Linked DNA regions of Homo sapiens. The protein of the gene in region 1 interacts with the protein of each later gene in a pairwise test. Each region holds a gene or a part of one and is shown on either strand. Other genes may lie near its edges. The genes, in order: KRT85 and CREB5.

Region 1 (4,300 bases):
GCAGTTGCTTTTCCATGGATGATTATGATCTGCATATGTTCTAGGGTCAGCTGGTGAGACCACCTGCTCTTCCCCCACCAGCTGCCAAGGTCTCTCTACCCTGCCCTGAAGAACAATGTGGAATGTGGAGGTGAGGTGGGAATCGATCAGCCTGATCCTGGGTGAAGGTCCTGGGTGAGGTCAGCTGGCTGTGGAGATTAGAGCAGATGCAGGACAGAGTACAGGGCATTTCGTGAAGGACTTATGAGAACAGCAGCATGATGGCAGTGTTTGGTTATGGAAGGCTTCCTGGAGGAGGAGTCACCCTCTGAGGAAGCTCATCGGCTCTTCTTCCTTAAGTTCCTAACACTTGGGTGTCTGGCTAACCTTCCTGGGGGCAGACCCACATCCCCAAGGTTTGTACTCCATAAACATTAAAAGAATAGCACTTGTTATCCTAATAAGTGTCCCAAGGACACACAGGGAAGCAGAAACTAGAAGGATGGGGCTCCCAGAACCCCCAGGAGCCAGAAGTCATAGCCACCTTAGACAAGAATAAACCACTATCCCACTTCCAGCTTTGTGCAATGCAGTCTCTAAACACTCCTCTAGGGATGACAATTCAAGGGCTGGCCAACAGAAGGAATACCTCTTGTAGCTGGTGGTCTGGGAAGGGAGACTCACATGACCTGTTTCTTCTTAAAGAGCAAAGCAAAGGTGCCCACAGCAAATTTATAGCCCCCAGGTTATCCCAAGGTTGAGTTCTCCAATCCTTTTGACCGAATGGAAGAAAGTGGCTAGAGGGAGTCTCCCCATAATCCGCAAGTAGCCATTATTGTGGCCACTGAGAGTTCTGTGGTTTGCACTTTTGCTGGGTGAGAAGTGAAAGCTCTGGACCAGCGCCTTCTGGGCTGGAATCCAGAAGGTTCCAAGAGATCATCTGCCCCAGCCTTTTATCCTGGCACGGGCATGGTCAAAATGACCGCTCTGGTCCTGAACCACCTTCCAAGCAATGCTGCCTAGATGGGGTGGGATTCGCCTGACCTATTGGCCCCTGAAATGCAATGATTTACTTGAGAATGTGTCCTCTGTGGAACCAGATAGATGAATGCAATGATCCCCCAAGTCTCACCTAACCCAGGACCCTCCAACCTCTCCCTTGAGACAATGGCTCCTGCCTGTATCCCAAACCCAGCCACCCCCAGGCTGTTGTGGAGTTCAAATCCGTCTCCAAGTGTGGGTTGAGGCCATCTCACAGAAAGACTGTGAGAAAATTAATTACTTAATGTATGTAAACGAGCTTTGAAGATGAAAAGTTCAAATGCAGTCTCCTTAATAACATCTTCAAGACTTCAGGGAGCCCCAGAGTCGCTGCTGAGCTCACCTTTAAGATGAGTCCGTGGGGAGTTGCTGGCAAACTCCCCAAGCCCATAAACAACATAAAATGGCTTTCCACTCCTTTTATGCAGCCAACCCCAGCTCTCCCCACCAATAAAAGGACCAGGGAGGATCAGAGAGAGCAGAAGGATCCTGAGCCTCGCACTCTGCCGCCCGCACCACCTTCCGCTGCCTCTCAGACTCTGCTCAGCCTCACACGATGTCGTGCCGCTCCTACAGGATCAGCTCAGGATGCGGGGTCACCAGGAACTTCAGCTCCTGCTCAGCTGTGGCCCCCAAAACTGGCAACCGCTGCTGCATCAGCGCCGCCCCCTACCGAGGGGTGTCCTGCTACCGAGGGCTGACGGGCTTCGGCAGCCGCAGCCTCTGCAACCTGGGCTCCTGCGGGCCCCGGATAGCTGTAGGTGGCTTCCGAGCCGGCTCCTGCGGACGCAGCTTCGGCTACCGCTCCGGGGGCGTGTGCGGACCCAGCCCCCCATGCATCACTACCGTGTCGGTCAACGAGAGCCTCCTCACGCCCCTCAACCTGGAGATCGACCCCAACGCACAGTGCGTGAAGCAGGAGGAGAAGGAGCAGATCAAGTCCCTCAACAGCAGGTTCGCGGCCTTCATCGACAAGGTGGGTGAGGCCTGAGACGGCCCAGAGAAGCCTCCAGCCCTGTCCTCCCTTGGGGAGGTCCCAGTCTGCTGAGGAGACAGGATGGCTGCCGGTTTGAGGCAGCAGAGGGAATGACGTGCAGACCCATACAGGTGGAAGGGTCAGTTTCCATCACTTAACTCCCGCAGCATTTAACGAGGTCCAGGTGTGGTCTAGAAATTGAGCCTGTGATCCAAAGTGTGTGCATGTGTGTGTGTGTACATGTGTGTGTGTGTAGCGGTGTGTGCGCCTGTACGTATGTTAGTGTGTGGTGTGTATATGTGTGTGTGTACATGTGTGTGAGCATATGTGTGTGTATGCATGTGAGTGTGTACATGTGTGTGAGCGTGTGTGTGTTTCTTGAGCCAAGACGACATAGGACTATCAGAACTGTGTCTGAAAAACCAGACTGGGCAGCAGGTGCTGGAAGAGTGGGAGATAACGGGGAGACCAAAAGACCTTGTGGCTCCTAGCCAGGCAGCCCGTGAAGGGGCTGGGGTAATGCCCACAGCCATGCTGCCTCTCCCAAGTCCTTGCTGCATCACTCAGCAGTGTGAGACCCCAGGCAGGTTACTCTGCTGAATAACAGGACTGCCTCATCCACCTGTGAGGAATTAATGAGTCCATGCATGAAACATGATGGCAAATAGTCAGCACTCAATACATGTTAGCTGCTACTATCATTATTTTCCAAGGACAGTGGTAGGTGAGGAGGTGTGACAGCCAACCCAGGCCTGGCAGCCCCTTCATGAGAGAGGGCTGAAATGCAGACAGGGAGGTGGCCAGGCTGGTAGGAGGAGGCCCCCTAATGCAGCCAGAGTGTGGAGAACGCTGCATAGCTGTGAGGCTGCCTCCCAAGAAAGTTTTGTCGGGGGAGGCTGGGAGCCTCCTTCACAGGCTCCTCCTGTGTCCACAGGCCTCTAGCAGAGCAGAAGGAGCAGCTTTGGGGGCCTAGGATCAGGGTTTGGGGGCAGAGGCAGTCACCTTCACGTTTTCACTCTTTCTTTAGTGATCTGAGTCCATCCTCACAGTGACGGGTTGGAGTGGGTATCAGCGTCTCCACTTATCAGACAGCAACTTGGAGCTAAGGGGGTGTATACGAGCATCTCAGACATGCTGTAGGGGGAGGCAGAGCATGCCTATCTCAAGACTATCGCTTACCATGAGCTGGGCATTTCACACCTTGGGGGTCTCAATTTCCCCATGTGCAACATGGGGTAAGTAATATCTACATCCCACAGGGCTGTGATAATTGAATGGAATGCATAGTTAGATGATATAGACATAGACACAGACATTAGACATGGATGTGTATATCTTACCACAGGCCTTGGCACTAAGTAGTAAATATTTAATAAGTGTTTGTTGCATAAATGAGCAAGTGAAGGGCAACTGGTAATTATAATAATAGTTAAATAGACTGAGCATTTACTACGTGTCAGGGACTGTTCTAAGCACTTGATATGCATTAACTTGTTCAAGCTTCACAACAGTGCTAAGACAGACACTATTCGCTCCATTTTGGAAAGGAGAAAACTGAGCCCCAGGAGGTTAAACAACTTGCTCTCTAAAGTATCAAAACTGGGGCTCGAAACAGACCTTTGGCTTTGAGTCAGACTGCTTTCCCTCACACCCACAACTGCCTCCCTGGGGGCCTGGGAATGGGCCCCTTGAGCCGCAGACACTCAGCTTTATGGCTCAGCCCATTCAGCCAGCACCCGAGGGCAGAGAGACTGTGGGGGACCAGGTGCCTCCCCCCAGGCTCCCTCTGACTTCTTCTTTCCACCTGAATGGCAGGTGCGCTTCCTGGAGCAGCAGAACAAGCTGCTGGAGACCAAGTGGCAGTTCTACCAGAACCAGCGCTGCTGCGAGAGCAACCTGGAGCCACTGTTCAGTGGCTACATCGAGACTCTGCGGCGGGAGGCCGAGTGCGTGGAGGCCGACAGCGGGAGGCTGGCCTCAGAGCTCAACCATGTGCAGGAGGTGCTGGAGGGCTACAAGAAGAAGTGAGTGCAGCAAGCTGGGGGGACTCAGGGGAAACTCAGAGAGAATGCTGGGAGGCTCTGCCCATAGCCCTCTTGCCACAGCTTCTTTCAGATTCCTCTAGCAGGCTGCCTGGAACCCAGAGCAGATATCCAGTGGGGCCTAGATTTCTTCAGATTCCTGGGATTCACCTCTAAGACTCCACCCCTGTGAGCCTTAGAGCTACTTCTGGGGGAATGAAGAGAGGAAATCCAGTGGAATTCTAGCACTCTCTATGTCCCTGTCCTTCACAGCTTACCTTTA
Region 2 (2,964 bases), on another chromosome or scaffold:
AGTGCTGGTCTGGGAAGGAGAAAATCTGATCTCCTTTTGTCCCTAGATAATGGTGACCCTGAAAAGGTAAGCCTTGGTTTATAAGTCATGAATGAGACTGTTATCGGAAAGGGGTCCCGGTCCAGACCCCAAGAGTGGGTTCTTGAGCTCCTGCAAGAAAGAATTCAGGGCAAATCCGTAAAGTGAAAGCAAGTTTATTAAGAAAGTAAAGGAAAGAAAGAATGGCTACTCCATAGACAGAGCAGCCCCGAGGGCTGCTGGTTGCCCGTTTTTGTGGTTATTTCTTGATGATATGCTAAACAAGGGGTGGATTATTCATGCCTCCCCTTTTTAGACCATATAGGGTAACTTCCTGTCGTTGCCATGGCATTCGTAAACTGTCATGGCGCTGGTGGGAGTGTAGCAGTGAGGACGACCAGAGGTCACTCTTGTCACCATCTTGGTTTTGGTGGGATTTAGCTGGCTTCATTACTGCAAACCGTTTTATCAGAAAGGTCTTTATGACCTGTATCTTGGGCCAACCTATCTCATCCACTGACTTAGAATGCCTTAACCTTCTGGGAATGCAGCCCAGTAGGTCTCAGCCTTATTTTACCCAGCTCCTATTCAAGATGGAGTTGCTCTGGTTCACATGCCTCTGACAAGACTATGTGAGGAATAGATGTCATTACCCCCAACCCCAAATTTCATCATACAAAGGTGACATATATTATTTGCATTTGAGTGCTTTATTATATTGGAATTGCAGTGATATTAACATTTGTACAAATGCACAAAATCTTGTCTCTTCTTGCTAGAAAGAGATGTAAAAATCTGACCTAGTTGAACAGTCTTAATGAACTCATTGTCCATTGGTAACAATAAATGTGTTCACGATGCAACAAAAAGCTTAACACAAAATTAAACATATTAAATGCTGCAGCAAGTATTTACATGTATGTACCCCTTTTTTTCTCCTTCCAATAAGGAAGGTGGTTGCTTTACAAATAGACAAACAAACACAAATGCTTTGCTGTTTACAAATACAAAGAACCCCAAGTCCAGAACTTAAAGTGACAGCACCTTTTTGGGACTTCCTCAGTTAACACTTACTTTACACAGTGCTAAACTTTTTTCTTTTAATTATATTTTTGGACAATATTTATATTCCAATTGTCCTAGAACATTGTATTTGAACTGAGCTATTTTTCTGGGCCTTTTCAGAGGATCCCAAACCCTATGTCCTCTCTAGAGAGAACATTTCAAGCTTATCTGTTCTCCAAGACAGTTCTCAAAGGCAACATTCCTTTCTCTATGAGGCAGATGTGATTTAGCAGAACTTAGAAGGGAAAAAGGTGAGTAGGTTGTATTTTCTACTGGCTGCTGGTTGGGAAGGGTCCTTTCTCTTAAACTCCCTCCACTCAACACAACTGATACCTTTCATTATCTCCTGTAGTGTCTGTGGCATTGGTATTCTAAAGGAGAAAACTAGAATCTAATGAGCTTATTGTGCATAAGATTTTAATGATGTATTTAAAGCTAATTTATTCAGCTTCCACATTCTCAGTCCTGAGGCTAAATTATTCTATTGTAAAATATCCAATCCTATAAAGTTCTATAATATGAAGCTCAATGTAAGAATATCTTAAATGGCTTAGAAGGAGCTTTCTAGATCCTGGCTTCTAATGAGCTAGATATTGTAAGTTGGTCTAAATACAACAGTTGGTAATTATTGATTCCTTTCTGATGACAAGTTGGAAAGGTATCAGAGTGCCACTTAAGAGTATTAATCTTTTAACAAGTGTTGGCAATTTGGCCTTACCCCCCACTTCAGCTGTGGTTAAATAGCTTTTTTAAAAAATAGACAATTTATAAGGAAAAAAATATATAAACACTCTTTAAGCAATTTGGCTACAAGCATTACATCACTGAAAAACTCCACAAGAAATAGTAAAATATTTTGAATGGACATTCACTTTTTCATTTTCACAACATGATGAGCTAGGTTTTTTGTTTTTTAAATTTCTTTGTGTTTGTTTTGGTATTGAATTTTACTTGTAAGTTTATTGCTGCTGTGTCGTCTTATCCTACCTTAGATTATAATTGTGAAATAGAGGTGCTGTCCCTAATTATGTTACAAGGCAACATTGTATTTTTGAGACCTAGGAATGAAATCGATAGGGCCACTGTTCTTTCAGTGGCCTCAGAGAGTCTATGGCTAGGACAACAGTCAGATGTGCACCAGGGTGCACAAAAGAATAAGTCTCCTGGCTTATTCAGGACACTTTGGTTTGGAAGGTGAGAGAAAATTCTTAAGTATAGCTTAGCTGCTGCCTCACATCTGTTGCATAATATAACATTTTTAAAAAACATGCTATGAATAAAGGGATAAAGAGTATAAACCATATAGTGTACTGGCTCTTCTCCTTGGCATTCTTGTAGTAGGCTTCACCTAGGCTGATGTGAGACACAGGTCTCAGCTGTGCTACCAATGGACGCACATAAATGTACCTGGTGCAAATATCTGTAAAGTATTTTAAATGATGCCGCTCAGAGCCTTGGAGGAGGGGTGGGGGGTATTGTAAAGGAGAGCAAAGGCAAGTTTGAGGACAGAGAAGAGGTTAGAAAGAGAATAAGAGAAATACAAAGGGATCAAAAAGCTAAAGTGCAATTTTTAAATATAAATTATTTTAAAAGCAGAAAAGAGATTCTAAATTGCTACTGTTCGCATAGGCACGGTTTTATTCAAATTTAAATGGGTTGTTTCCTTTCCCTTCTCAGATATACTGCATAATGGAGCTTGAATGGCTTAAAGCTACTGCATATTGTTCGGGAAGGGACAAAAAGCACTAAGGGAGCTGAATAGTGCAAGGCTTTCTAGGAAATTGGGGTGGGGTGGAGAGAGGCAGAGATGAAGCTGTTTTTACACTTCTACAAGAAAGCTGTTCCAGTTAGAGTTACTGATTCCCTTTAGCTGAACTCTGC

What was found.
Region 2: the proteins of KRT85 (region 1) and CREB5 interact in binary tests that used the Homo sapiens proteins (3 or more experiments, as listed by UniProt).

Annotation. Positions count from the first base shown.
Region 1 is NC_000012.12:52,364,682-52,368,981, reverse strand, and holds the start of KRT85 (keratin, type II cuticular Hb5), read left to right. Parts: upstream 1-1,500; 5' UTR 1,501-1,576; coding exon 1,577-1,996; intron 1,997-3,811; coding exon 3,812-4,020; intron 4,021-4,300.
Region 2 is NC_000007.14:28,823,640-28,826,603, reverse strand, and holds the end of CREB5 (cyclic AMP-responsive element-binding protein 5), read right to left. Parts: 3' UTR 710-2,964; downstream 1-709. UniProt on the Homo sapiens protein: Binds to the cAMP response element and activates transcription.